Regions from separate parts of the Homo sapiens genome. Here regions 1, 2, 3 and 5 are each linked to region 4. The links come from fine-mapping of genetic effects on gene expression. A gene starts in region 4. Each other region holds a variant in brackets. All regions are shown on one strand. Distances are from middle to middle.

Region 1 (5,103 bases), 54 kb after region 4:
GGGTGGGGTGGTATGTGATTAAGTGGGTGTCACACAACTGGCACAAGCTACAGGACAAGGAGAAGGAGGGCTTCCCCAGTGGGGAGGAACAGGCCACTTATCTATGGCCCTAAGTTGTCAGCCTGGGGGAGAAGGTGGAAGCAGTGTTTGTTAAGCTGGAATGAGTGTGCATGTGTAGGAATTATGCTGTTCAGTCTGTAATGTCAAAACAGATAGTGAGAACTTCCATTTCTGGTCACGGTGGAGGACAAGGATCAGATTTGTTCATGAAACAACCAACAACCAACCAACCAACCCCTTCCTCCCTACAAAAAGTCCACTAAAACCTAAAAACCACCTAGACAAAATAGCTACAACGATGGTTTGTAGGACACCAGACATCTGTAATGAAGAACAATAAATCCTGAGACATGGGAAACAAGGGCAGCCCTATATCCTTGGGAGTTTCCAGGGAGAGGGACCTGGAGTGGAGCTCAAGGCACCTAGAGTCCATAGGACACAGTACCAGCAGGAGAGAGCTATACAGAGATCCCCAGAGATCTGCAGGGTCCTCTTTGAGTATTCAGCAGAGTCCCTCTCAGTGCATGTATCTGAGCAAACTATTCAAGGCCAGGAAAAGAACTATCCAAAAGGCTTAGAGGAACAGTATCCAGTGCTCACACAGGGCTAGGATTAGTGCTTACTACCCCCCGGTCAAACTGGAGAAGCTCATGATTGACAAAGCACTGGGCAGAATACTCAGGAAGATCTTGCCTATAGTAGGAAATAATCAGCCCTAAACTGAGCTCTAGACCTACCTAACAAATCACAAAAGCAAGACTCGCAAGCATCAAACTGTTTCCGGGTAACTTAAATGCTTCTCAGTATAAAACTCAGGAAAATTTATAGGAATAAAAATATCCAGCACCCCAAAAGGCAAAATTCACAATGTCTGGCATCCAAAGATTACCAGGCATGCAAAGAGGCAGAAAACAGGACCCACAATGAGGAGACTTATCAATCAATTGAAAGCAACCCAGAACTAACACAAATGTTAGAATTAGTAGAGGAGAACCATAAGACTCCAACTTTCAGAGATGAAAACTACAATGTCTGAGATGAAAATTACATTGGGCTGAAATGACAAAATATCCACACATAACACAGTAAAAACTTCACACCATTATCAAGCATTAACTCAAAATGGATCCTAGACCTAAATGTTAAGTACTAAACCTATCAAATTTATAGAAGAAAACATAGGAAAGAAATCTTTGTGACCTCGAGTTGGGTGAAGATTTCTTAGTATGATGTCAAAAAGCACTATCTATAAAAGAATAAATTGAACTTCATCAAAATAAATTCAGTACTTTAAAAAGCACTGTTAAGAAAATGAAAGACAAACCATACACTGGGAGAAAACTTTTGCAAAGTACATATCTGATAGAGGACTTATATCCAGAATATAACAAACCAAAATTCAACAATTAAGAAAACCAATAAAAAAGGGCTAAAGATTTGAACAGATACTTCATTGAAAAAGACAGAGGGCAGGTAAGCATATGAAAAGATGCTAAACATTCCTAGTTATTATAACAACGCAAATTAAAACCACTAGGAAACGCATCTACCACCACTGATTAGAATGAGTAAAGCTAAAAAGACTGACCACGTCAGGTGTTAGTGAGGATGTGAAGGAACTGGTATTCTCATACACTGCTAGTGGGAATATAACATAAAGCTTCAGAAAACAGCTTGATAGTTAAGTTAAACATACACCTCCCATATGACCCAGCCATTCTGATCTTGAGTATTTATCCAAGAGAAATGACAGGCTATGTCCACAGAAAAACTTGTACACAAATGTTCAAAGCAGATTTATTAGCGATAGTCAAAAACTATAAACTAACCCAAACATCCACCAACGGGTAAGTTGGTAAATACATGTTTCTATATATAGAAAAATATTTAGCAACAAAAAGGAACAAACAATTGATACATGGGACAATACAGATGAATCTCAAAATAATTATACCAAGTGAAAGAAGGCAGACATAAGAGAACGTACTGTATGATTCCATTTATATAAAACTTTAGAAAATGCAACAAATCTACACTGACAAAAAAGCATATCAGTAGTTGTTAGAGGAGGGTAAGGAGGGGTGAATTCAAAGGGAAACAATGACACATCAAAATTTATGAAGCTGTACATTTTTAAAATGTGCAGTATATTGGATTTCAATCACGCCTCAGTAACTTTTTTAAAAAAGGAAAAGAAAAAGAGTAGGCAGTGGCATTTACTAAAATGCTATATATGTTTAGCTCCCACATACACACTGGCAATGAATGAAAAGTGCTTCCTCTCTTTGGGGAGGGAACAGGTAAAGCAGGCAGCAAGTCAAGTCTCAGCAGCTGCTCCAATTTTAACTCTGGAGATCACTTGTGCCAGGAGCTGGAGCCCTTGAACAGTGAAACCACCTGCCAAGTTAGTGCCATAATTTCCTAAAGAAAGCGTGCCCTGCTCAGAGAAGGCAACTGAGGTTACAGTGCAGACAAGACAGCTGACAGTCTTTAAGCTCTAAAGGCCACTCAGCATAAAACATCACAAGCATTGCCTTCTAATTGCAGAACTGACCAATTTCATTCCTGGCCGTACAAGCCTATAACTCATGCCTAACAAACTGCCTGGAATAGCTCCATATTCTTATTTTAAGTATTTAGTCTTGGCTCTCCTGACTGAATGCAGCCCAAGCTCACAGACCTGGCCTGCGTTCTGTGTCCTGGTGGCACGTATGGTGCTGGTACTCAAGAGCACTCTTGGATTTGCTTTACTTGCATGATTTTTAAGAACCAGAAGGACAAGCATGAGGCCTTCATATTTAGACCTTCTTCCCTATATGGTAACAAGAATATGAGGGGTAATCCCAGAATGGTAAACTTTACTTTAAGCACCTTTAGTTACTAATCAGTAAGAAAAATGTGAAAATGTGCTCCAGTTAAAAGCACAAGACCATGAAAGAAGCCAAAGCTATGACTGACTGCATGCAGAGGCTGTTGACGTCATCTTCGCCTGGGTCTCCTCCTGAACTGAAATCCTTGGAAAGGGAGCAAAAGGGTTTA[C/A]AAAACAAGACGGTGCAGAGAGTCTCAAGTCTGTCTACTCCACAGCAGCCTGCTCTTTCCTGTTGCTTTTCAAGGAATCAGCAGAGGGAGACCTGGCCAGCAGCTCCTGGGCAGCAAAGTATCCCCAGACTGTGTTCCTGGTGGTTGGCTCAAGCCACTGAAGCGGTGGTTAAGACTCAAGACCAGGACCTGGAGATTCACAAGGACCACTGGGATACTATTTCACTAATAACCCAATAGAAATGGAGTCACTTCCAAGGCACTCTGCTTTGGGGAAGGGCAGAGTGCCATATACCTTCTACTGGGTAACAGGACTGAAGAAGGCACCTCTACAGACTTATGGCTTCACTACTTGTAGTGAAAGCTCATGACTCACAATGCAGTTTATAGTTGCTCATGAATCTTTGCAGGAGTGTTTCCTATAGGCAGCATTTTACAGGGACAAAATATGGGAAGTTTTAAGATTAAAAAAAAAAAAATGACTAAACTAAACCAAAAATCAAACATAACAAAAAACCAGAATATCCTAAGCCCCAAACCTTCAAAATAAAATAAAGTCCTTGCCATTTACAGTTTGGAGAGGGAAAAGGATTTCTACTTTCAACACGCAGGTGAGTTTCTTAATGACAAAAAGTACAATGAGGCCAGCTGCGGAGGAGGCTCATGCCTGTAATCCCAGTGCTTTGGAAGGCCAAGGCAGGAGAATCACTTGAGGCCAGGAGTTTGAGACTGGCATGAGTTTGCAACCAGCCTGGGCAACACAGCAAGACTCATGTCCCCAATCCTGTTTCTGCAAAAAATTAAAAAAAAAAAAAAAAAAATTTAGCCAGACATGGTCCTAGCTACTTGAGTGGATCAAGTGGGAGATCACTTGAGCCCAGAGGTTTGAGGTTGCAGTGAGCTATGACCGCACAAGTACACTCCAGACTGGGCAACAGAACGAGACTCTGTCTCTTAAAAAAAAAAAAAAAGGTGTAATGGTTGAATGGGTGGAGGTAGGGGGAGCCAGTATTTTTCTGCAGCTTTGCATTTGAAGCCACTCAGAACATTCCCAGATGGGCGTATGGCTCAAGGTCTAATGGTTTAGCTGTTTGCTTTCCCTCTTCTTATTAGACACAGAAGTTCTCTTAACCACCTTTTACTCAGCTGCCTTACTTGGAGACTCATAAAACTCACAGCCTTCGTACCCCAGCATAGTGAAGAGCACTCCCCTCATGCTTTAGTCTCTAGCTCATGATCACTTCTTCATTCCCATATGAGTTCTGTGTTCACAAAGGGAGGAGTGGTTAGCTGTGTTTGTCCCCAAATCCATTTATGGTAGCTATATTTACTGTGTAAATATAATGTAATTAAATAGTATGTAAATCAATAAAATGAGTGTGAATACAAACAGCGGTTCTAGCTGACTCCTGGGAAAGACTCAATAAAGGCAAGTCACTAAAAAACTATTGCTAGTGAATAATCATATGGGAGACTACATTTAGAGAAAGAAATCTTAAAAATCTGGAAAGGTTTGGTTTTTAAATGTTCTCACAATACTCTTTGCTCTACTTTAAAAAAGGTCAAATTGGTTTTTGCAAGAACTATGATGGGAAACTCCACTAGCAGAGCCATCCTCAAAGATAAAGACATAGTCCTTTAGCAAATGATTTATGTTAGAGTTTGAAATCAAATGTTTACAGAAGCCATGTCACTTTTATGTTAGCATACCAACTACCCACTTGTCTCAATCATGATGGGTAAAAAGGGATTCTACATTTAGATAGGCAAAAGATACAAATTCAAATCTTACATTCTTATTATTCCATTTCTGGGTCTCTGTGGCTGTATTCCAGCACAACCTCCCTGAAGTGGGGTTCTGAGAACTCCTTATGAGTGAGGGGTATGACCAAAGGTCCAAGTGCCAACCCAAAGAGGGAACCAGCTCACTCTCACTATCATTTTCCTGAGATCACCAACAGTGCAAGCACATTTCCCATACGCAGTATGGAAATGCTTCTAACC
Region 2 (5,103 bases), 290 kb before region 4:
TCATTTGTGCAATCTACTGCACAGATTTTTAATCTCTGGTTTCTTACTCTCTGTTCCTTCCAGAGAGCTTCTTGTTCACATTTTACTGCTGCAATATCTTTATCACTCAAGGGATATTAATTGTAGGATTTATTTTAAGTTTTCTCTTGTTCCCTGGATTCTTTTCTTGAAGACCTTTTACCCCGCCCTCATGGTTTGCTTTGATCTCTGCACTTCATGATAGAAATTTCTAATGATCCTTGGCTGTCTACTCACATTACCACTCTGGCTGGAAACTGGGTGGGGAGGGTGGACTGGTAGGCTTTTGTGTAGGGTCCATGCAGGGTGGTTGCATAGGGCTGGTGCAAAGGGGCTGGTTGGCTTTTTCTGTGATGCACTCTCCTCCCACCCCCAATTACCGTATCTTTAGGTCTTTGTCCTGGAAGTGGTTCTCCAGATAATTTTCTGCCTGGGGTTGGACATTCTAGAATGAGACGGGTGAAGGGGGCTGAAGATCTCACCTTCTCTGGGCCTGATGTTTCTAGTTTTGGAGTTTCTTTGTTGCCTTTTTTTCAGAGAATAAACCTCCCTTTGCTTGCCCAGAAGTGAGTGGGGTTACTACCTGGCTGGGCAGGATGGGGGTTGGGGACGTGGAGGTCCCATGCTCCTTGTACAGATTGCTTTCAATCCCCACTTCACCAGCAGCTCCTCCAAGACCTAGTAGCTTCAATTTTTGAGGCCTTTAGGCAAATTGGCTTGTTTCTCTATGCAGCAATCCACCCACACAGCAGTCACCTACCCCATCCATTTAGCTTTGACTTTCTTCCTCTCGGTTATGTCACTGGCCACTTCATCCATTTCCCTCCTTTGTAGTTCAGGGTTACAAATGTCTCTCGATTTCCTCAAAGACAGAGTTTTTGTTTCTGCTCCTTATTCTTGTTTTGGGGAAGTTTTTTGTTTGTTTTTTTCTTTTTTAAGAAGAGAAAAGGAATAGAAATGTCTTTAGTCTACTATCTTAAAGCCACCATTTCATTAGAGTTTTAAATGGAAAAAGCACCCTCTTATATTGGACAGAAGTGTGTCAGCAATGTGGGTTTTGTGACTCTTACTGGAGTAAGAGCCTACATTATACGCCAAGGTGGCTTCATGTTCTAGTTTTACAAATGCATTTGATACAGTTAATAAAATAGCAAATTATGTATTAAGGAGAATACAGATAAGTCATTGCTGGCTTGGCAGAGAGTGGAGAGCAGCCTTGACCAAAAAGCTTAGAGGAGGAAAAGTGGGGTGGAGGCATGAGGTTGACCTGTCCCTGCTAAGTGCCACTGTTTTCAGCTCACCCCTTTCCACCTGCAGGTCCCTGCTCAGATGCCACCTCCTTGGAGGATCCCCACCCACCTGTCACTTTCTCTCTACTAACTTGTTTTATGTCTGACTGCCTGCCAATGGATTTGATTGACTTATTTATCTTTAGGTTTGTCGACCCCACTAGATCATGGGCTCCATGACCAGGGGGAGCTTTGCTTTTTCACCTCCATACACTCGGTGCCTGTGAGCACCTGGTACATCAGTAGATGCTCAATAAAGAGTTGTTGAGTGAACAAATGAATGAGCCAGTGATTGCGTGGATCCATGTTTTCTATGAGAAGGCAGAGCTCTGAGGACAGACAGAGGCCCAGTGTGCATGAGAAAGTCCTGCTGGCCCAGGCAGTGGCCTAAGAGCTGCCTACCATGGCGGTCACTGTTCTTGGGGAACCACAGATGTTTCCCCTCTAATCCCTCCATGGGGACCAGGGGGGCATGAGAATGGGAGAGAACACAAAGTCCCTTTATTCAGGGGAGTGGATTCCATCTCAAGACAAATTGTTACCTCCAAGGCCACCAGCCGCCCAGCCGGCCCATCACCATGGCCTCCCTCTTAAGGATGTGGGCACAGGCCCGGCCAGAGCTGAAATTGCCCTGGAAACTAGTCTCCCCTTTAATTAACAGGGAGGGCGACCAGGCCTGCTAACGGGGTGGGGTATGGAGTCGGGGTGGGGTCAAGTTCATAAAGTCCCCAAAGAATCAAGGCCTCCTTGTTTATTTTCCCGAAAATGTTCCCCATTACCCAGAACAGCATAGGGGCCAAGCAGGCCGCAGGCAGGGAAAAAGCTTTAACCTCCCCGCTGCTCAGCTCAGCACATCACTATTTGACTTGCATTTTAAAAATAATTACAAACTTAATGAAAAAATAACCTAACCCCCAAACAGGCCAGGGACTCATGGCCAGCATTGGCAGGAGCAAGCCCCTGGCAGCTGTGAGGATGAGATGCAAAGGGTATAGAGGAACCACTGGAAGACAGGGGACACCCTTTAGATGGACACTCCCTCTCTCTAGCGCCAGCTTTGGCTCCCTATTGCCCTTTGTGTCATGCCCAAATGTCTCAGCCCATGTCTTAGAGCCAGTTTTACTCAGGCCCTATGTGGAAGACACTGGAACCCAAAGAGGAAAGGAAGTTGCTCAGGTTGTGCATTGTGTGGGACCTGATGCAGGTAGTGAGGCTGGTTGGGATGGGTTCTCGGGGAAAGAGTGGAGGAAAGTGAGAATGTGTCTCTGTTACCATCTGAGCCCTGGCTGGGTATGGCCAACATGCCAGGTAAGCAGCCTTGGGAAGCAGGCACGATGATTATCCATCTTTAATATCCCAGGACTTGAGTCCAGGTCTGTCGGGCTTTTAGCCACCACACTAAGTGCTGTAAAAGGAGCTGGAGGTAGAAATGAAGTAACAACAATAATAATAATAAGCAGCTTTCATGGATTGTAGACTATGTGCCGTGCAC[T/C]GTGCCAAGCTCTTTACCATCTCTTTTAATCTTTGCAATAACTTTATCTGGTAGGTAGTGTTATTGACCCATTTTACAAACGACGCCCAGAGCATTGGTTCAAGGTTGTGCAGCTGGGAAATGGCCTGTACTCTTCTACCCTGAGAATAATGCTCTACAGTGAGTCAGGGAGTCTTGTGAGGTCTCAAGAACAGGGACCTTGTCTGTCTTATTCACTTGTGTGTCCTCAGAGCCCAGAAGAGAGACTGGCATATAATAGATATTTAATATCTGTGTTGTGAATAAGAATGAACAAATGCACCTGGACCTAGAAGTAACTTCCGATGAACCATCCCAGTTCTCCCTTCCCCATTCCGGATTATCTTTACTTACCTGGAAGTGAACAAGATATTAAGGGGCTCCAAAAGAACTGAGAAATAGAACTTGGTTTGAAAGACAGTAGGGAGCCACAGCAGGTCCTTCAGGAATGGAGTTCCAAGCTAGGGGAGTGATGGTCTTCCTGTGTCTTTATGGATTCCAGGAGCTAGTCAAGGTCAATGAGCCTTTAGCCAGAAGGTCAAGTTATCCCCAGTGGTAAGTGTTGGGGGAAGAGGAGGGCACTTCTCAGGAGTTGAGGGTCCCAAACTTGTCATGCTCATTGGTTTTGTGGCTGAGAGTGGCAGGTTCAGGCTGGCCAGCCAGCCTCTTCAGCTTGCCCATGGTAAATCCCATGATCCTGGGTCAAGGACGCCCAAACATGGTATGTCCATAGCCAGCTGACAGAATTCGTATGTCATTGAATCTTTCAACAATGGATTCTTTGAAACTTACAACTCTGGGGCCTTTGAGGTCCATCTCAGATTCTGAGGCTGTAGAAACTGTTCATTTTAGAATAATGATAGGTACAAAACATTTACTGAGTACTTACTACTCCAGACATTGTTTACAAATATCAACGCCTTTAATCCTCACAACCACCCCAGAAGGTAGTAACAATGTGACCCCCCACTTCACAGATGTGAAGACGGAGGCACTGAAAGGTGTAACTTGCCCAGGGTCACTGGCCGCCTGGCTCTAAAGCACACAGCACTGCCTCACAGACACTTAAAGTCGTTGAGACTTACACTCTTCAAATTTTAGAATCGTAGAAAGTCACAAGGTCAGGATCTTCAAGCCACAGAGTCTTAAAATCATAGCACTTTAGAACCTGCCATCATTGACTCATCAAATTCTGCCGTCATAAAATCTGGGCATGTTATAATCCTGGAATTCCAGATTCTTGGGGACTTTTAAGTCAGAGAAGTTTAGATCCTGGGATATTAGGCTTGGATTACAGACCCTAGCCCAGTCCTCTCATATAGCACAGGGAAACTGAGGCCCACAGAAGTGACAGAAGTCCAAGAGAGGCAGAGCCTGGTGGATTCAGTGTCATGTTTGGAGGGAGAAATCGGAGTGAACAAAGAAAGCCCCTGGGCAGGCAGGAATCTGTTTGTGATTAGCAGTGGGTTTTAGTGTTGCCGAGGAATGTACCCAACGTTACCGTTACCCCCGCAGGTTGCTGCCTCCTTTCTTCCCCCTCAGATGCCCTCCTCAGAGCCCATCCTGGCCAGACTCAATATCCTGTTTCTACCACCAGCAAATTGAATTTTCAGAAGTTGGCCTCCTAACGAAGCCAGCTTAATACGTTGGAGGTTTTCTTTGCCTGCATTGCTATTTCTTGGTAGGATGCCTGCTCTTCAGGAGCCCAGAGAGGTTTTGCACACTCAAATCACAACGCCAGGAGGGATGAGGGACAGGAACTATGGGACAGGTGGCTGGGGGCTTAGATAGACCCAGAGGTGGGAATAGAAATGGCGTGTCTCAAGGGGGAGGTGACAGGTCCACAGGGACCTCCGTACTGCTCAGGCCACACCTGGGAATTTGGGGGCCTTCAGTCTTTCAGAAACATTAACCAAATGGGGTTTGTTTAGAGGAGGGATGGGGAGAGATGGGTGGGAATCCCATGCTCTGGGAGACCTTGAGCGTGGACTAGATGGAAAGAAGCATGAATTCTAAAGTTCAGCCTCTCAGCTACTGCCCCCTTGAAGACAGACATGGGTGGAGCCCTGGGGTATAGACCTAAGATTGAATGGTGGAAACTCCATGAAGATTTTGGTTTTATCAAAATCAGTGGTTCTCAGGCTGGGCATGGTGGCTCACACCTGTAATCCTGAGGCGGGCAGGTCACTTGAGATCAGGAGTTCAAGACCAGCCTGGCCAACATGGTGAAACCCCATCTCTACTAAAAATACAAAAATTAGCTGGGTGTGGCATCAGACACCTGTA
Region 3 (5,103 bases), 930 kb before region 4:
ACACACATGCAGTTCCTGCTTGGGTGCTTATCAGGTGCCAAGCCCTGTTCTCGGTGCTGGGAGTACAGCAGTGAGCAAAGGAGACAATATTCCCTGCTCACAGAGATGACAAACTGGCATCCTTGAGCTGACAACACTTTTCCATGACCATAGGTCACTGTCTACACTGGGTACACTTTGTACCAGTGTCGGCCTCCACTGATGCTGGTGCTCAGGCACCTCTGTCCAAGGACAATCCCTTTCACAAACAAACCAGCTGCCTTTGTATCTTGTACCTTTTCAGAGAAAGGGAGGTATCCCTGTGCCAAAGGCTCCAGGCCTCTCCCCTGCAACTCAGGACCCAAGCCCAGCTCACTCTGGGAACTGTGTTCCCAGCATCTCTGTCCTCTTGATTAAGAGATTCTCCTTCCAGGCCTAAGCCTGGGATTTGGGCCAGAGATAAGAATCCAAACTATGAGGCTAGTTCTTGTCTAACTCAAGACTGTTCTGGAATGAGGGTCCAGGCCTGTCAACCATGGGGCTTCTGACCTGAGCACCAAGGTTGAGGGACAGGATTAGGCAGGGTCTGTCCTGTGGCCACCTGGAAAGTCCCAGGTGGGACTCTTCTGGGGACACTTGGGGTCCACAATCCCAGGTCCATACTCTAGGTTTTGGATACCATGAGTATGTATGTTTACCTGTGCCTAATAAAGGAGAATTATGAAATAATTTTATTTTTCTCTGCAATTTCTTCCATCCTTTCCAACGATCTCTTACCAGTTTTTCCTGCCTTCAAAACTGGCCCCCATGGTGAAAGGCCGTAGAGTTGTGTCTTAACCTGGGCTGAGTGGTTTGTGAGAACAGATTACCTGGAGCCCAGTGGGTCTTCCTGCACTCCTTCTGTTTCTTCTGGCAGCAGCAGTGTCTCTATTAGGGTACTTTCTGAGTCAAAATGGCTTCAACAAGATGGAAATATGTTTCACACAAAACAAGAAGTCAGCAGATAGGGTGGGCTTCAGTGCTGGTCCATTCAACTCCCAAAGCTGCGCACAGGGACCCCGGCTCTCCAGGCTCCTTCTGTCTCTTGGCTGTATTGTCTCGAGACTGCTGGCCCAATGGCTACAGCAGGTGTCACATTAAAGAGGTCCATGACCAGAGGAAGAAGCCAGGGGTCATTGTAGTACCTGAGAACTCAGAACTCTGGAGTCAGGCTGCCTGGAATTAAATCCTGGCTCCAGCACTCAATAGCTGTTTGACCCTTGGCAAGTTTCTTAACCACTCTATGCCTCAGATTCTTCATCTGTGAAATGGGGGACAATGATAGTACCTAACTTATGAGAACTAAATGACTTATTTTGTATAAAGCAATTAGAACAAGCAGCGCCTGGCATAATAAGCCCACAATAAAAGTTACTCCCGGCTGGGCACGGTGGCTCACGCCTGTAATCCCAGCACTTTGGGAGGCCGAGGTGGGCAGATCACAAGGTCAGGAGTTCAAGACCAACCTGACCAACATGGTGAAACCCCGTCTCTACTAAAAATACAAAAATTTTTAGTAGAGACGGGGCGTGGTGGTGCGTGCCTGTAGTCCCAGCTACTCGGGAGGCTGAGGCAGGAGAATTGCTTGAACCCGGGAGGTGGACGTTGCAGTGAGCCAAGATCCCGCCACTGCACTCAGCCTGGGCAAGAGAGCGAGACTCCGTCTCGAAAAAAAAAAAAATGGTGCTCCCACATTTCTTTCTTGGGATGGAGGAAGCTTTCCCAGAAGCGCTCCTGACCGACTTTCCCACACATCTCACTGGTCAGAACTGCATCACTTGCCGTTTCTGACCAATCACCAGCTTACATTCATGGGGCACGTGCTTACACTAACCATGGCACTCCTCGAGCTAAGTGGAGCTCATGCGTCATATGGAGGGGTAGTGACTCCTGAGCAAAACCAGGTTCAAAGAGGGAGGGGATCGTAGGGAAAAGAATGTGCGGAAGTGCGGAGGCCCAGCCAACAGCCTGCTAACTGCAGATACTCGAGAGCGGCCACCCTAGATCATCTGACCCAGGCTGGCCCACGCTAGAATTGCCCAGTGACCCGCAAGGTCATGAGCTAATTGAGCTAAATAAAATCATTGTGTTTTTTTGTTTGTTTGTTTTGTTTTTGTTGTTTTGTTTTTTGAGACAGAGTCTCACTCTGTCACCCAGGCTGGAGTGCAGTGGTGCGATCTTGGCTCACTGCAACCTCTGCCTCCCGGGTTTTCAAACGAT[TCTTCTG/T]CTTCTGCCTCAGCCTCCCGAGTAGCTGGGATTACAGGCACGCGCCACTACACCCGGCTAATTTTTATATTTTTAGTAGAGACGGGGGTTTCGCCATGTTGGCCAGGCTGGTCTCCAACTCCTGACCTCAGGTGATAGGCCCACCTCGGCCACCCAAAGTGCTGGTATTACAGGCGTGAGCCGCCGCACCCGGCCAATCATTGTGGTTTTAAGTCACTAAGTTTGAGGCTATTTTGTTTTACAGCAAAAGCTAACTGATGCAGACAGGGACAAGTCAGTCTCATCTCTGTGCACCCAGCATTGCCCAGAACAGGGCCTAGTTGTGTCTAGGGTCTCATGGGGCAGCCCCTGACCTCTATCTTGCCCCTCCCAGCTTCCAACAGACCCTGTCCCAGCTCCCTCCAAGCTGAGTGTTGGCCTGATACCTACCAGTGGAGCGAGGGGAACACGAGGACTGCCAAGGGCAGGTACCGTGCCAACCCTTCACTCCATTCCACAAAGAGACTCATTTACTCCTCATGACAATCCAGTGAGGCAGATGTTCCTGTCACTTTACAGATAAGACAAATGAGCTTTAGAGAGAGCAGAAGACTCATCCAAGACCTCACAACAGAGAAAAAGACTCCTCTGGTTTTTGCCTTGGAGCAGGAACTTTTGACAAGGCTGCGCAGATGCAGCCACATGAAAACCGCCCATTAAAAATGTAATATCGGCCCGGAGCGGGGGCTCACGCCTGTAATCCCAGCACTTTGGGAGGCCGAGGCAGGCAGATCACTTGAGGTCAGGAGTTGAAGACCAGCCTGGCCAACATGGTGAAACCCCGTCTCTACTAAAAATACAAAAAATAGCCAGGCGTGGTGGCATGGGCCTGTAATCCCAGCTACTCGGGAGGCTGAGGCAGGAGAATCACTTGAACCCAGGAGGCAGAGATTGCAGTGAGTCAAGATTGCACCACTGCACTCCAGCCTGAGCGACAGAGCAAGACTCTGTCTCAAAATAATAATAAAATGTAATATTCACTCTTATCAAATAATGGATGTCACCACACCCCGACCCTAATTAGTGAGGACTTTCATGTTCTACTTGTCTTCATTTAATCATCATTGTATAAGAGTTTTACAATATCAAATTAGTAGATGTATATTACTGAAAGGGAAGGACTGTTAGAAATTTACTTGAGGAATGTCTGCCACTGGGGGCTGAACACAAAAGATCCTATTGTGACCTGCCAGATTATTCATTCACTTAGCAATTCAACAACCATCGCTGAATGCCTACTATAGGCCAGGTGCCATGCAAGACAGATGTGCTCCCACCCTCAAGGGTTCACAGTCTAATAGAGGAGAGAGATGTTAAACAGATAACTGTACAGATGGCATAGCTAATTATATTCGTGGAAGTTCGTTGTGGCAAAGACAGGCATCTCAATATTTCAGGAGCTCCCCTATATTTTCTAGCCTCCCTTACAGTCACATGACTAGTTCTGACCAGTGGGGTGTGTGTAGGAGTGGCAGGCTGAAGCAATGGAGAGCTGGTGAGCCTCATCCCTCTCTTCCCCTGCCACAGCCACCTTGCGCCCACAAGTTCCCTTAGCTACAAGCTGGAGGAGAGCCACCAGATCCACCTTAGATTTCACTGAGCAAGAAATAAAGCTTCTTGTGTTAAGTCTTTCAGATTTGGAGTTTGTCTGGTAGATAGTGTTAATTACCATGACTAAGGAAAATTTGCCATTAGTGAAGGGAGGAAAAATATTCTCCACCAGTAACAAGGCCATGTCAGTCTGCTGCATTATAAACCCCAAACAGTAGTTTATGATCCTCTGGGCTGGCAATTTGGGCTGAATTCAGCTGGGTCACTCCTGCAGCTGCAGGCAGCAAGCAGCTCGAATGTCTACCTTGCCAGGAAGGCTCTTCTCTGCTCCACATGGCCTCGTCCTCCAATAGGCATAGCCTACTCCTTCCTATGGTGGTCTCAGGGTTTCAGAAAGCAACAAGAGAGGACAAATTCCAGTGTTCAAGCTGCACTAGTGTCAAAGCATATCAAATAGCATGTCAAATTCCACATCAAATTCAGGATGCAGGCAAATTGATTCTTTCTCTTGATGGGAAGAGCTGAAAATAATGTGTGGTCTTGTTTTTCAATGTACAGTGGTCCCATTTATCCAGGGGGGATACATTCCAAGACCCCCAGTGGATGCCTGAAACCACAGATAGTACAGAATTCTGTATATACCATGTTTTTTACTATACATACATACCTACGATAAGGTTTAATTTGTAAATTAAACTCTTACAAATTAAGAGTTAACAACAGCTGGGCACAGTGGCTCACGCCTGTAATCCCAGCACTTTGGGAGGCCGAGGTGGGCGGATCACGAGGTCAAGAGATCGAGACCATCATGACCAACATGGTGAAACTCCGTCTCTACTAAAAATACAAAAATTATCTGGGTGTAGTGGCGCATGCCTGTAATCCCAGCTACTTGGGAGGCTGAGGCAGGAGAATCATTTGAACCCGGGAGGCGGAGGTTGCAGTGAGCTGAGATCGCGCCACTGCACTCCAGCCTGGTGACAGAGCGAGACTCCACCTCAAAAAAAAAAAAAAAACAAAAAAAACAAACAGTTAACAATAAATAGAACAGTTATAACAGTATGTTGTAATAAAAGTTATGCGAATGTGGTCTCTCCCTCAAAATGTCCTATTGTACTGTACTCACCCTTCTTGTGATGATGGGAGATAATAAAATGCCTACATGATGAGATGAAGGTAAATGAATGACATGGGCATTGTGATCTAGCGTTAGACTACTACTCACCTGATGATACGTCAGAAGGAGAATCATCTCCTTTGGGTGATCCA
Region 4 (5,103 bases):
GTGCTATTCCAGGGACAGGGAGGCCCAGGCCTGAGAGTCCAGTTGCCTTCTGGATCCCGTTTACCTCGCAGATTATCCAAACTGGACTCGTGATTTTCCCCAGCTGTGCCGCGCCTCCCCAGCGGTCTCACTGAATCCACCCATGGGCTATGTCAGAAATCTGGGAGTTATCCTCAGCTCCTCCCTTTCCCTTCTGAAGCCATACCTACTTCTTGCCCTCAAATCTCTGTGACCTGACTTCTGGTAATGTTTCCATTCTCACCATCTCATTCTTCTCCACACTTATCATGAAGTTCATTTATTCCAGACTACTTTAGGTTGAGTCCTAAAAGTCAGCCTGCTAGTTCATGCCTCCATGCTTTTGCAGGTGCTATTCCCTCTGTCTTAAGAGTCATTCATGCCTTCTCTCTTTTCCTTGTTGTGAACTCTTTTTCCTCCAATTTAAAGCTTTCCCCCACCTGTACGCATGGAGATTGGCAAGCCTCCCTTCTCTAGACGACAGCATTTCTTGTATTTGCCTCTTCATCATATATTCCACAAGTGTTTGTTAATCACCTACTATGAGCAAGGCCTTCTGCATTTCCTAGGTTGGATTTCCACTGTGCTGTGTTTGTTTGCTCATCTCCCTCACTGGTCAGGAAATGTCACTCATTTGTTAACCCCCAGTGCTGAGCACAGTGCCTGGCACACAACAGGCATCCCATTACTATTTCTGAAAGGAGTGGAAAAGCAGGCACAGAGAGAAGAGAAAGCCTGATATCCTAAATATACAGTCTTTCTTCCCATGCCTGTCTGTGTTTGCAGTCAATAAGTAGAAAGTCTTTCGAAGAATAACCTGGGCCTGGAAAAGGAGAGAAACCATGGCCCTAACGAGTTAGGTTGAAAGGCTGCCTGGCTCCTATAATCTGACAGTGGAAGTTTGCTCAGTTCTGTGCTGATGGCTTCCCACAAGTAATTGGTTCCTCCGAAAGGAAAAGAACCCACCTAACCCCTCTCTCTCAGAGGAATTTTCCTCTCCCACAGCCCTTTCCAGATTTCCATCCCTGAGCTTCTGTACTTTTTGATATAAGCAATAACAACACCCACAACAAACCAATAGCTGGGCTTCGGAGATCAGCAGGGCTGACAAGGGGACTTCAGCCCCCATCTTTGAACTTAGAGTGAGAACACTCTTTGGAACACTTTGTTCCAAAGAGCTGAAGTGATGGAACTCCCACTCGTTCCTGTGGACAGCTCATCCGTCCTTTACAAGACAGTGCGCGGGAGGGAAGCGTGGGTTAGAGTGTCAGAGGAATAGCTCCTGGAAGGCCAAATTAGCCCAGGGATGTGGTGAGTCGGAATAGAAGAAGCTGTTGCTAGGCCACCAGCATGTACCCCCACTCCTCCTCTCAGTGCTGCACTGCCTGCTGGGGAAAAGCTGTGACTTCCTCAAGCAGACACGCCTGAACCCAGGCCCAGGCAGGGCAGGGTTCAGACTGACTGCTTCTGACTTGTGAGAGCACAGCATAGGCAAATCCCCTTTGAATGTCATTTCTTCCTTTGTAATCTGGATAACAATAGTTGCATCACAGTTGTCTGGAGACTGAAAGATTTTTAAAAAGAGTTAAGGTGTATATGGAAAGCATTTAGCACAGCACCTAGCACATAATAGGCATTCAGTAAAAGTTAGCTGTTTATTCATTGTTTCAGCGCTTACTTACTCAGCACCTGCTAAGTCTGAGTACTGTTCTAGGTATCAGCAGTGAAGGAAAGAAGACTTGGTCCCCAAATGTACTTTCTTTGGGGGAAGAGCTGGATAAATAGGCTTTGTGACTCTGTGTGCTGTGTTAGATGGTGGGAGGCACTGGAGAGAAAGAGCAGGACGGAGGGTCATGTCAGGAGGTTCAGAAGCCTTGCTGGCTGGGTGGGGTGACATTTGAGGAAAGGCCTAATGGGGTGGGCACGGCCATTGCAGAGCCTCTCAGGTGGGAGTTGGTGTTGTGTTTAGAGGACATCTGCCAGTGAGAAGCCAGTTGTGCAGAGAGGGAGTAAGGAGGAGTAGTGGGGAGGAAGCTGGAGAAGTGAGAGGGGCCAGATCCTGGAGGGCCTGGAGGTCATGGTGAGGACTTTGGCATTTACTGTAGTGAGATGGGAGCCACTGGGGGATTTGTAGCAGCAGAGTGCCAAGGTCCAAGGGTTATTTTGACAGGCCTCCTCTGGCTGATGTTTGGAGGATGGGCTACAGGGCAGGAGTGGGAGCAGGAGCCCAGGTGGGAAGTGATGGTGGTGGAATTGTCATGAGCTTGGGCCACTGTACGTGAAGCTGCCTGTCCAGTGCTCGCCCAGCCCATACCAGGCTCGTTTTCTGCCCCATTTTCTGAGACCCTGCTGAGGAGGGCATGCACTGGCTCCTGTGTCCAGTATGTCCTTCCATTCTCCTGACTTTGTGGGCTATTTTCAGTCTCCAGATGAAGAAACCAGTTCTTAGAAAGGTGAAGCCCCTGGCGCAGTTCCCCAGCAGGTGTTTCAGTGCTGTGGCAGGAAGGTTTTTTGATAGAAACAGCCTCAGGCCAGAGAAGTCGGCCTGAGCTGTGGATTCCTTGGGAGAAATGGGCTTTTTGCCTGCCTGCAGCCTCTGGTTTCGGCTGGAATTGGCCTTTCAAGGAGCAAAGTGTGGATCTCATCTCCTTGAGCACAGTCATGGGCAGTCAGAAGGCATCGGGGGCCCTCATGATGTCTGGGTGAAGAAAATCACTCAGCCCTTAATCAAACTTGGTCCAGGGCTGGGATCAGAAGAAGAAACCCCACTTCACACTTGACTGCTTGGAGTGAAGCACTTCGAAAGGAAGCTGCCTGGGAAGTCCCAGAAGGGAAGGGGCAGGGAGGGAAGGGGACAGGGTGAGAGCAGGTCTCACTCATCCCAATCCCAGCCAGGATTGGGTCAGGGCCCCCAGCGCTTACCTGCAGGCAAGGTGCTGCTCCACGACCTTCTCCAGCTGCTGCCGCTGCTGAATCTGTTTCCCTCCCTGAAACGTAGCCCTGTCTCTCAGCTGGCTTCCTGATCTGGGAAGGGTGGTGCCTGTCCCCTGTTCAGCTGACTCACCTTGGACTGGGATGGGCACAGGTGAGGGCTGTGGCTGGGTAAACAAGGCAGGTTGCCAGCCCAGAGGAGGCCTTTGGCCTTAGTCTGGATTTGGAGGTGGGATTAAGGCCCTCACAGCTGCTGTTCAGACGGTTATGAACCAAGACTTCTTGGCCTTTTCTTAAATAGCTCTAAATTTGGGTTGGACACCTAGTCCTGCTGATCGAGGCAGTTGGCTAGAGGGCGGTTTGTGATAGGTATCTAGGGGTCTAGGCCAGGATATTAAAAAGTGGTCATATCCTGTGACCCAGCATTTCTTCTAGGAATTTGTTACAGTGGAGTCACAGGGCCCATCCATCACTGCTGCTTCTAGTAAGGAAAATGTAGAAATCCCAAATGCCCATCTCTGTGGTCTGCTTGAATAAATCATTGTCTGTGGAAGATCACAGAGCTATTAAAGTCACTTAAGGAAGAAGGTATGAGGAAACATTTCTGAGATTCTAGTGAGATGTTGAAAAATCAATATTGTGAATCTCTTCTTGCATTTTGTTTTCATTTTTTGTAAAGTGGATGTGCGTTGAAAGCAGTCTAGGAGGACATACGCTAAAATGCTGAGTATCTCTGAATGGCAGCATTGAGGGTGAGGTTTTCAGTTTGTACTTTTGTGTGTTCCAAGGTGGTTTTTTTTTTTTTAAGTTAGCTTTTGCTCTGAATGCTCATGACTTTTGTAAGGGGGAAGCAATTAAGTTTGATTATTTTAATGGGAATTTAGAGTGGTTGTCTCTTGGGAGCAGACCTAAGGAGCTGTGTGCTGAGGTGGAGATTTTTTTTTTTATGGCACATTTTTGGTGTCTTAAATTTTGAAAAGTTTAAATGTACTACTTATTCCAAAAATAATTATATAAATTTGAACAGAAAAGGAGGAAGAATTTAGTTTAGATCCTGGTGGGTTTGGTTGGGTGAGGGTGCCTGTCGCACTGGGTGCCTGGGGAGGGACGAGGGACTCGTGTGCTGGGCAGTCCCATGAGGATTGACGCTGTACACACTCAGGGTGTGTCAGTATCTGGGCTGCTTCCTGGGCCAGGCAGGCCTACGTCACAGTTCCCATGACCCACCTGGCAGAGTTGCACTAGCCTTGGGTGTCAGATCTTGTGCCTGCCAATGAAGAGCTTACAGCCCAGAGTCCCACACAGGAAACACACAATAGGAATAATAACAAGAAAGACATTTGCCACTAATTCAGCACTTACTCCCAGAGAGCACAGAGATTCTACCCCTGGCACTTTAAAGGCATTATCTCAATGGCTTCTCATGCCATCCCTGCAGAGTAGGTGTGACTCACACCATTCCTCCAGGTGGGGACACTGAGGCACAGAGGCAAAGTTTCTCTCTCAAGTTAGCTGGAAAGTGGGCCAAGTTCATGTCTTCTCTTCTATGGGACATACTGTTTCAGAAAGCTGAGGTGTGGGGCAACCTCAGAGTAAGCTGTGTGGGCCTGAAGCTGAGGTAACGTGGGTGATGGACCCACCTTAGGTCAGGTGTCCAAGGCCAAAGCAAAGTGGAAAATAGAGATCCTAACTAAACCAAGCCACTCCTCCCCCACCTCACTTCATTCAGTCATGACCTGAAAGGGCCTTTATAGAAGAGGGAGGAGGAAGCAGGCCCTTCCAGGTAAGGGGCTTGCCTGTGGTCCCAGCATGTCAGCATGGAGCCCAGGTCCCCTAACTCCCACCTATTTAATACCTACAGGGACTCTCTTTCTATTCCCTCTTTGGATAGTTGCCACCCATCACTGACTTCCAGCCACCTGGAAATATCTTTCATTGGGCATGCCCTTGCTCGAACTCTTCAGTGGCTCCCTCCTGCTTCAGGGTCTGGGCTAAACTCCCAGGGCTGACATGGAGACCTCCACAGCCCACTCCCTTTATTACCTCCTCAGCACTCCCCCAGCACCTCTGCCTCAGCTGGACTGGGAGCCCCACCATTCCTGCCCCACTGCACACCCACTTCCTACCTGCCCTGACTCCATACCTTTGCCTGTC
Region 5 (5,103 bases), 60 kb after region 4:
ACTGAGTGACCGAGGGAATGCCAGGTCCTAACTGGCCACTCATTCAAACAGTCACTGAATAGCTACTCTATGCCAAGACTGATGGGGAGACCTTGGAGAACAACACTAGTGTGGGTCTGGCCTCCTGGAGCCTTCAGTCGGTTGGGGAAAGAGCAGATGTTTAACTACACGGATCCTGACTATGATGGGGGCTAAGAAAATAGATGGGTGCATTGTTGCAGAATTAGAAGCATGCATGTATGCATCCAAAGTGTTACTTAAGCTGTGCTATAAAGAAAAGAGCCTGTCATGCAGTGGGGAGTGGGGGCAGTGTGGTGGCACCTAAGCAAAGGGGCAGAGACCTCCATGTGGGAAAAGGCTTGGAGCATTCGAGGAATGAATGCAGGCCAAGGTGGCTTGAGCTCCTGGGAGAGGAAGAGCAAATGTAACAGAAAGAGACAGTAGCATCTAAGAACTGGTTATTTCTACCTCCCCGACTTTCTGCACTGCTAGAATACACCTGGTCAAAATCAAAGGGGTCCAGGGGAGGGAATGCAGAGACTTGGTTAAGCTTTTTAGCAGGAAAAGAAAACAAAAAAACAGAAGAAAAAATAGAAGTAAAAATAAACAAATGTCACCATGAGCACCAAAGGGAGAACTGAATGCTATGTGATTAAGTTATTCATAACCTTGGCTTCTTCCATGGGAAACAGCAGGTGACAATATTTTTAGAGAAAATTCCAAGGCAGACAAATGATTTCCAGTTTATGGATACAATAAACCCCTCAGTAATTCATAAAAATCAGTTTAAGCCTAAAAATGTTCTAGTTAAAACATCTATGAGTAAATAGGTGAATTTATGGTATGTAAATTATATTCAATAAAGCTGTTACCAAGAAAAAAAAAGGTCATGGACCCCACTGAAAGGAACCAGAGCTCTTTGAAAGATGGCTGATAATTGGACCAGAGTAGTGAAACCGAGAAATGGATGAAGGAATGGTGGGAGCCTGTCAAAAAGGTACTGGAGCCAGCTTAAAGGGCTCCTACTGGCCAAATTTAGGATGATATTAGCATCAAAAAGAATAATGGGTATCATTGATCTTAAGGCCCTGACAAAAAATTTCAGCCCACAGTACAGTCAAAGCAAATAGAGGGGGAAAAAGTCACTTGCCCCCACTGGGAATGGCAATACCCCATCAGTTAACATTCATTTTTCATTTTAAAAATTGGTAATTAAAGGCTGGGCACGGTGGCTCATGCCTGTACTACCAGCACTTTGGGAGGCTAAGGAGGGTGGATCACTTGAGGCCAGGAGTTTGAGACTAGCCTGGGAAACCTGGCGAAACCCGTCTCTACAAAAAATACAAAAATTAGGACAGGTGGCATGCACCTGTATGCCCAACTATTCAGAAGGCCGGATGGGAGGCCGGGATGGGAGTCTGGGAGGTCGAGGCTACAGTGAGCCATGATCAAGCCACTGCACTCCAGCCTGAGTGACAGAGACACTGTCTCAAAAAATAAAAATAAAATTTGGTATTTAAAGGTAAAGAATTACTTTACCTTATCTTATAGAAGGATAACAGCTAATAAATTTAGAAAGAATGAAGGAATTTTAAAAATCAACACTTTGTGAATGCCAGTGACTTCTTCAGGGGAGAATGATCAGATGGTGTAAACACCACTAGGTGAAAGGCTGATGAGCAAGAGACCATCTATGGCTACCTAAGCACTCCACAGATCACTGCTAAATGCAAAGGGAAAAATGTACCTTTACAGAAAAGATCAAATTTAGCATCACAACTAGTGATGTTTCCCATGTGTGCTGAGGATGAAGTACTCACACTAAAATGTTTAAACGGAATCTATTCAGACACTTAAAAGATTAAACATCCGGTTCAGAAAATCAAGGCAGGGAACAAGTTAAACAATACCATGAGAAAACAGTAAGACAGATGTGGAGTATTCTATAACTAGCCTGCTCTCTTTGAAGAAATCAGAGTTATTAAGAAAAAAACAGCGTAAGGACTCTTCTAGACTGAGATTACAGACATAACAACTGCGATGAGTGAGGCTCAATGGAACTGTGGTTTTAAAAAAGAGCAACACTTTGGAGACAACTGGGTAGTCTCGATAGGCATTTGCTTCACAGCAGGCATCGTTACTCCCATTTTATAGACAGCATGTGGAAGCTGGGAACTGTGGGACAATTTGTTCAAGCTCTCATAGCCCGTTGTATGGCAGGGTCAAGATCAGAACACAGCGAAGAACCCACATGCTCTTTGGGGATCACTGTCCACCTGGCACCACTTCTGCCCACTGCCTGAGCTGGCACTCCACACACCTGGGATACAACCAGTGTCCTGTTTCTGCCTTTGCCCCCAAAAGCCCATTGTCCACACAGTAGCCAGAAGGAGCGTGGGTTGGGGGGGCGGGGGCGGGCATTAAAAGCCAAGCCAGCCA[G/A]TGGCTCTCACCTGAGTTAGAAAAAGGCAACGTTTTTATAAAAACCAACGAGGCTCCACCATCCCCTCATCTCCTGCCACATACCCTTTCACACAATCCACTTCCTGTTCCTCTAACGCACCGGTCTTCTTACTGTTCCTCTAATGCACCGAGCAGGCTCCAGCCTCAGGGTCCTGCACTAGCTCTTCCCTCTGCCTGGATACTCTAGACAGCCCTGTAGCTCCCTCTCCAATGTCCTTTGAGTGAATGTTAAAATGCCATTTTTTTCAGAGGCCTTTTCCAATCACCCTCACGAAAAGCAGCCAACTTCCCTTCCCATCCCTCACTCTGCTTTAATCTCTCCAGCGCTTCTTACTACCTGATGTGCTCCATGGCCATACTATCAGTCTCCTCATCATAAGCAAAGCCCCACCAGATCAGGTCTTTGTCTATTTAGTTCACTAGCCATGTCCCTAGAGCCTGGCTTGCTGCTGTTGCTCAAAAAACATCTGCTGTGGGAAGGCAAAGGGACTTGTTGCAGCCCTGCCCAACAGTTACAGCCTGTGTGCCTCAAGACAGCACACGTCAGGGGAAGCCATCTGAGGCATCTCTGCTGAGGGTGAGCCTCCCTCCAGACATCAGATCACCAACCAAGAGATACCTAGCAAGGGAGTGGATGGAATAAAGCAGAGGAGAGGGGGGAACAAAGCTAAGGAAAAGCAAGGGGCTTGAGGGAGGCTGCAGCAAAGTGGCCACACCTGTCCCGGGAGCCTCAGCAGCCTTCCCAGTCAACCTCCTGAGGACATGAGGTTGAGGGGCTCCTGGTTTTTCTCAGTCAGAAACCGGGAGGCTATACCTGACTTAAACCTGATCCCAAGGACAAAATGTCCAGTTAGTTACTTTTTAAGAAGAAAAAAGAAAACATTCCTTCAATCCCCTTGGGGCTGCTCTCACAATGGCAGGCACACGGCCTGCTGAAGTAAGTAAAAGAGGTCTAAACCTAGCTGTGTGCCAGGACAAGCTAACAGTAAAGATGACGAAGCTACTGGAGGCAGCAGGGAGGCGCCATGAGAATTCCCTGGCTCCTAAAGGCACTTACTTGGCAGCTTACCTTTCCACCACCTCCCTCCCACCTCAATGCCTGTCATGCTCCTAGGAGATGCTTAGCTGGTGATAGTGAACTTTGTATTTTCCCTCTGGTACCACAGAGGTAGTGCAGGCATTCCTTTGAGGCCTTGCTCATGCTGTGCTCTGCCAGAAGGTCACGGAAGTCACCAGAGGGACCCTTGAGAGTGACATCAAGGTGACTGACAGCCATTAGTGGCATTTAAAGCATCCATGTGGTAAAGGTCAGTCTGTGCTCTGCACACCTGTGATGGCTAAGGGGAGATTTTGGCCACCTTACTTCCACCCCTCTTTCTCTGGACCCGTGCCCAAATCAGCTGAGTGGACACCTGGCAAGAGCTGACTGGATCAAGAGTGTTCACCTTACTCAAACTCTCCTTCTCAGAGAAGTAACAATCAGAATCACAGCCAAGAAATCTGAGCCAGATACTCAAAAGAAGACAGAGAAGCTGGCCATGGGGAGGGGGGAGGGGGGAGGGGGGACGGGGGAGCATGCAGGGGACTTCCACCACCCACCAGTTGGGAGAAGCAGACAAACACAAATCTCTAACAGGAGACTACTGAGGCAGTCAGGCAGGAAACAAAACAAAACACAAAACAACAACCAAAAAACAGAGATGAGAACTAGAGGCATCATGATTATTTCTTTTCCCTTCTTAGGACCCAGTGGGCTTCTGCCTTTGAAAACCCCTGGAACCTTTATAACCTCCACCTTCTGATCATGTTCCCCCAAGATGGATTCTGTTCCCAGTGACTTAAAAGCCTTAACTGCTACAGATGAGATCTCCCAGTGCCTACCCACTCCTCTCACGCCCCCACAGGTCTCAAACAGGTTATTCCTGGGAGGCTGGTGACAAAGACCCACGGGAACAAAGCCACCAGCCTGCTCGAAAACAGTCTATTCTGTGAGCATGAGGCAGAGCTGGCTTCTCACTAAGGCGTCTTTATAGGGCTTATCAAAACGAAATCAAAAAGAAAGCTTTTGTCCTAATGCATGCCAGGGTCCTGCTGCTGCTCTGGAAACATGTGGGTGCGTGCCACCCGCGAGAAAAACACACACTTCAAGAGGCACTGGAAACCCTGATGGTGTTCTGGGTCTCATGACCATCTGTTCTCATAGGAAAAGGCTCCAGACATGCTGTGTGGGGATATTTCACAAAGAGACATGGTGAAGTGCGGCACTGCCTACATGCTGGGGTCCAGTCCTGTTGGCAGCACCAGAACATGGGCGAGCATGAGGGGCAGACGTGGGAGTGGGACACATGCTGCCAAGCACCCTAGTGTGGCTATGTACAAGCTAGGGTGGGGAGGGGGTGCGGCAGAAGGCAGCTCCTCACGGCTTGAGTCCCAATCTTTGCCCCAGTTGGCTGCGGAACTGAATGAACTGCCCACTCACCCCAGCACTGTAAATGGTTACTCTCCTCATCCTTCCGATGACAAATCACCAAAAGGATGCGCTTTCATCTACCAGACCTCCCAGGCTCAGGTGCTGACTGTGGCCTACAAGGACAGCTATCTAAAACATCAAAAGCACTTTCCAGCTTCCTTCACGGACATGAG

Alleles and levels. Alleles are on the strand shown, and positions count from the first base shown. SD is a standard deviation of normalised expression in the study named. Not every link is listed here.
As copies of C replace A in region 1, the expression in esophagus mucosa of the gene that starts at base 2,995 in region 4 goes up (small effect, 0.11 SD a copy in GTEx).
For the expression in transverse colon of the gene that starts at base 2,995 in region 4, allele C in region 2 goes with a lower level than allele T (small effect, 0.38 SD a copy in CEDAR).
For the expression in whole blood of the gene that starts at base 2,995 in region 4, allele G in region 5 goes with a higher level than allele A (small effect, 0.22 SD a copy in GTEx).

What was found. PIP is the estimated chance that this variant, and not a neighbour inherited with it, causes the effect.
Region 1: its variant is fine-mapped to the expression of SDCBP2 in esophagus mucosa (GTEx, PIP above 0.99).
Region 2: its variant is fine-mapped to the expression of SDCBP2 in transverse colon (CEDAR, PIP 0.95).
Region 3: its variant is fine-mapped to the expression of SDCBP2 in sigmoid colon (GTEx, PIP 0.98).
Region 5: its variant is fine-mapped to the expression of SDCBP2 in whole blood (GTEx, PIP 0.97).

The regions. Positions count from the first base shown.
Region 1 is chr20:1,379,784-1,384,886 of GRCh38, forward strand. All of the region lies in intron 2 of FKBP1A (FKBP prolyl isomerase 1A), which reads right to left. All of the region lies in intron 2 of FKBP1A-SDCBP2 (FKBP1A-SDCBP2 readthrough (NMD candidate)), which reads right to left. Among named protein-coding and RNA genes, the nearest start is that of MIR6869, 11 kb to the right of the region's middle. The variant C/A (reference allele first, on the strand shown) is at 3,100.
Region 2 is chr20:1,034,875-1,039,977 of GRCh38, forward strand. No RefSeq gene overlaps it. Among named protein-coding and RNA genes, the nearest start is that of RSPO4, 35 kb to the left of the region's middle. The variant T/C (reference allele first, on the strand shown) is at 2,800.
Region 3 is chr20:396,852-401,954 of GRCh38, forward strand. It overlaps TRIB3 (tribbles pseudokinase 3), which reads left to right. Exons shown (of 4, transcript NM_021158.5): 4 at 1-708. Among named protein-coding and RNA genes, the nearest start is that of RBCK1, 8.9 kb to the right of the region's middle. RefSeq lists an enhancer at 2,151-2,651. The variant TCTTCTG/T (reference allele first, on the strand shown) is at 2,239.
Region 4 is chr20:1,326,145-1,331,247 of GRCh38, forward strand. SDCBP2 (syndecan binding protein 2) reads right to left here and starts at 2,995. Exons shown (of 9, transcript NM_080489.5): 1 at 2,941-2,995. All of the region lies in intron 2 of FKBP1A-SDCBP2 (FKBP1A-SDCBP2 readthrough (NMD candidate)), which reads right to left. All of the region lies in intron 1 of SDCBP2-AS1 (SDCBP2 antisense RNA 1), which reads left to right.
Region 5 is chr20:1,386,347-1,391,449 of GRCh38, forward strand. The region is part of intron 2 of FKBP1A (FKBP prolyl isomerase 1A); the gene reads right to left. The region is part of intron 2 of FKBP1A-SDCBP2 (FKBP1A-SDCBP2 readthrough (NMD candidate)); the gene reads right to left. Among named protein-coding and RNA genes, the nearest start is that of MIR6869, 4.1 kb to the right of the region's middle. RefSeq lists an enhancer at 4,795-5,103. The variant G/A (reference allele first, on the strand shown) is at 2,440.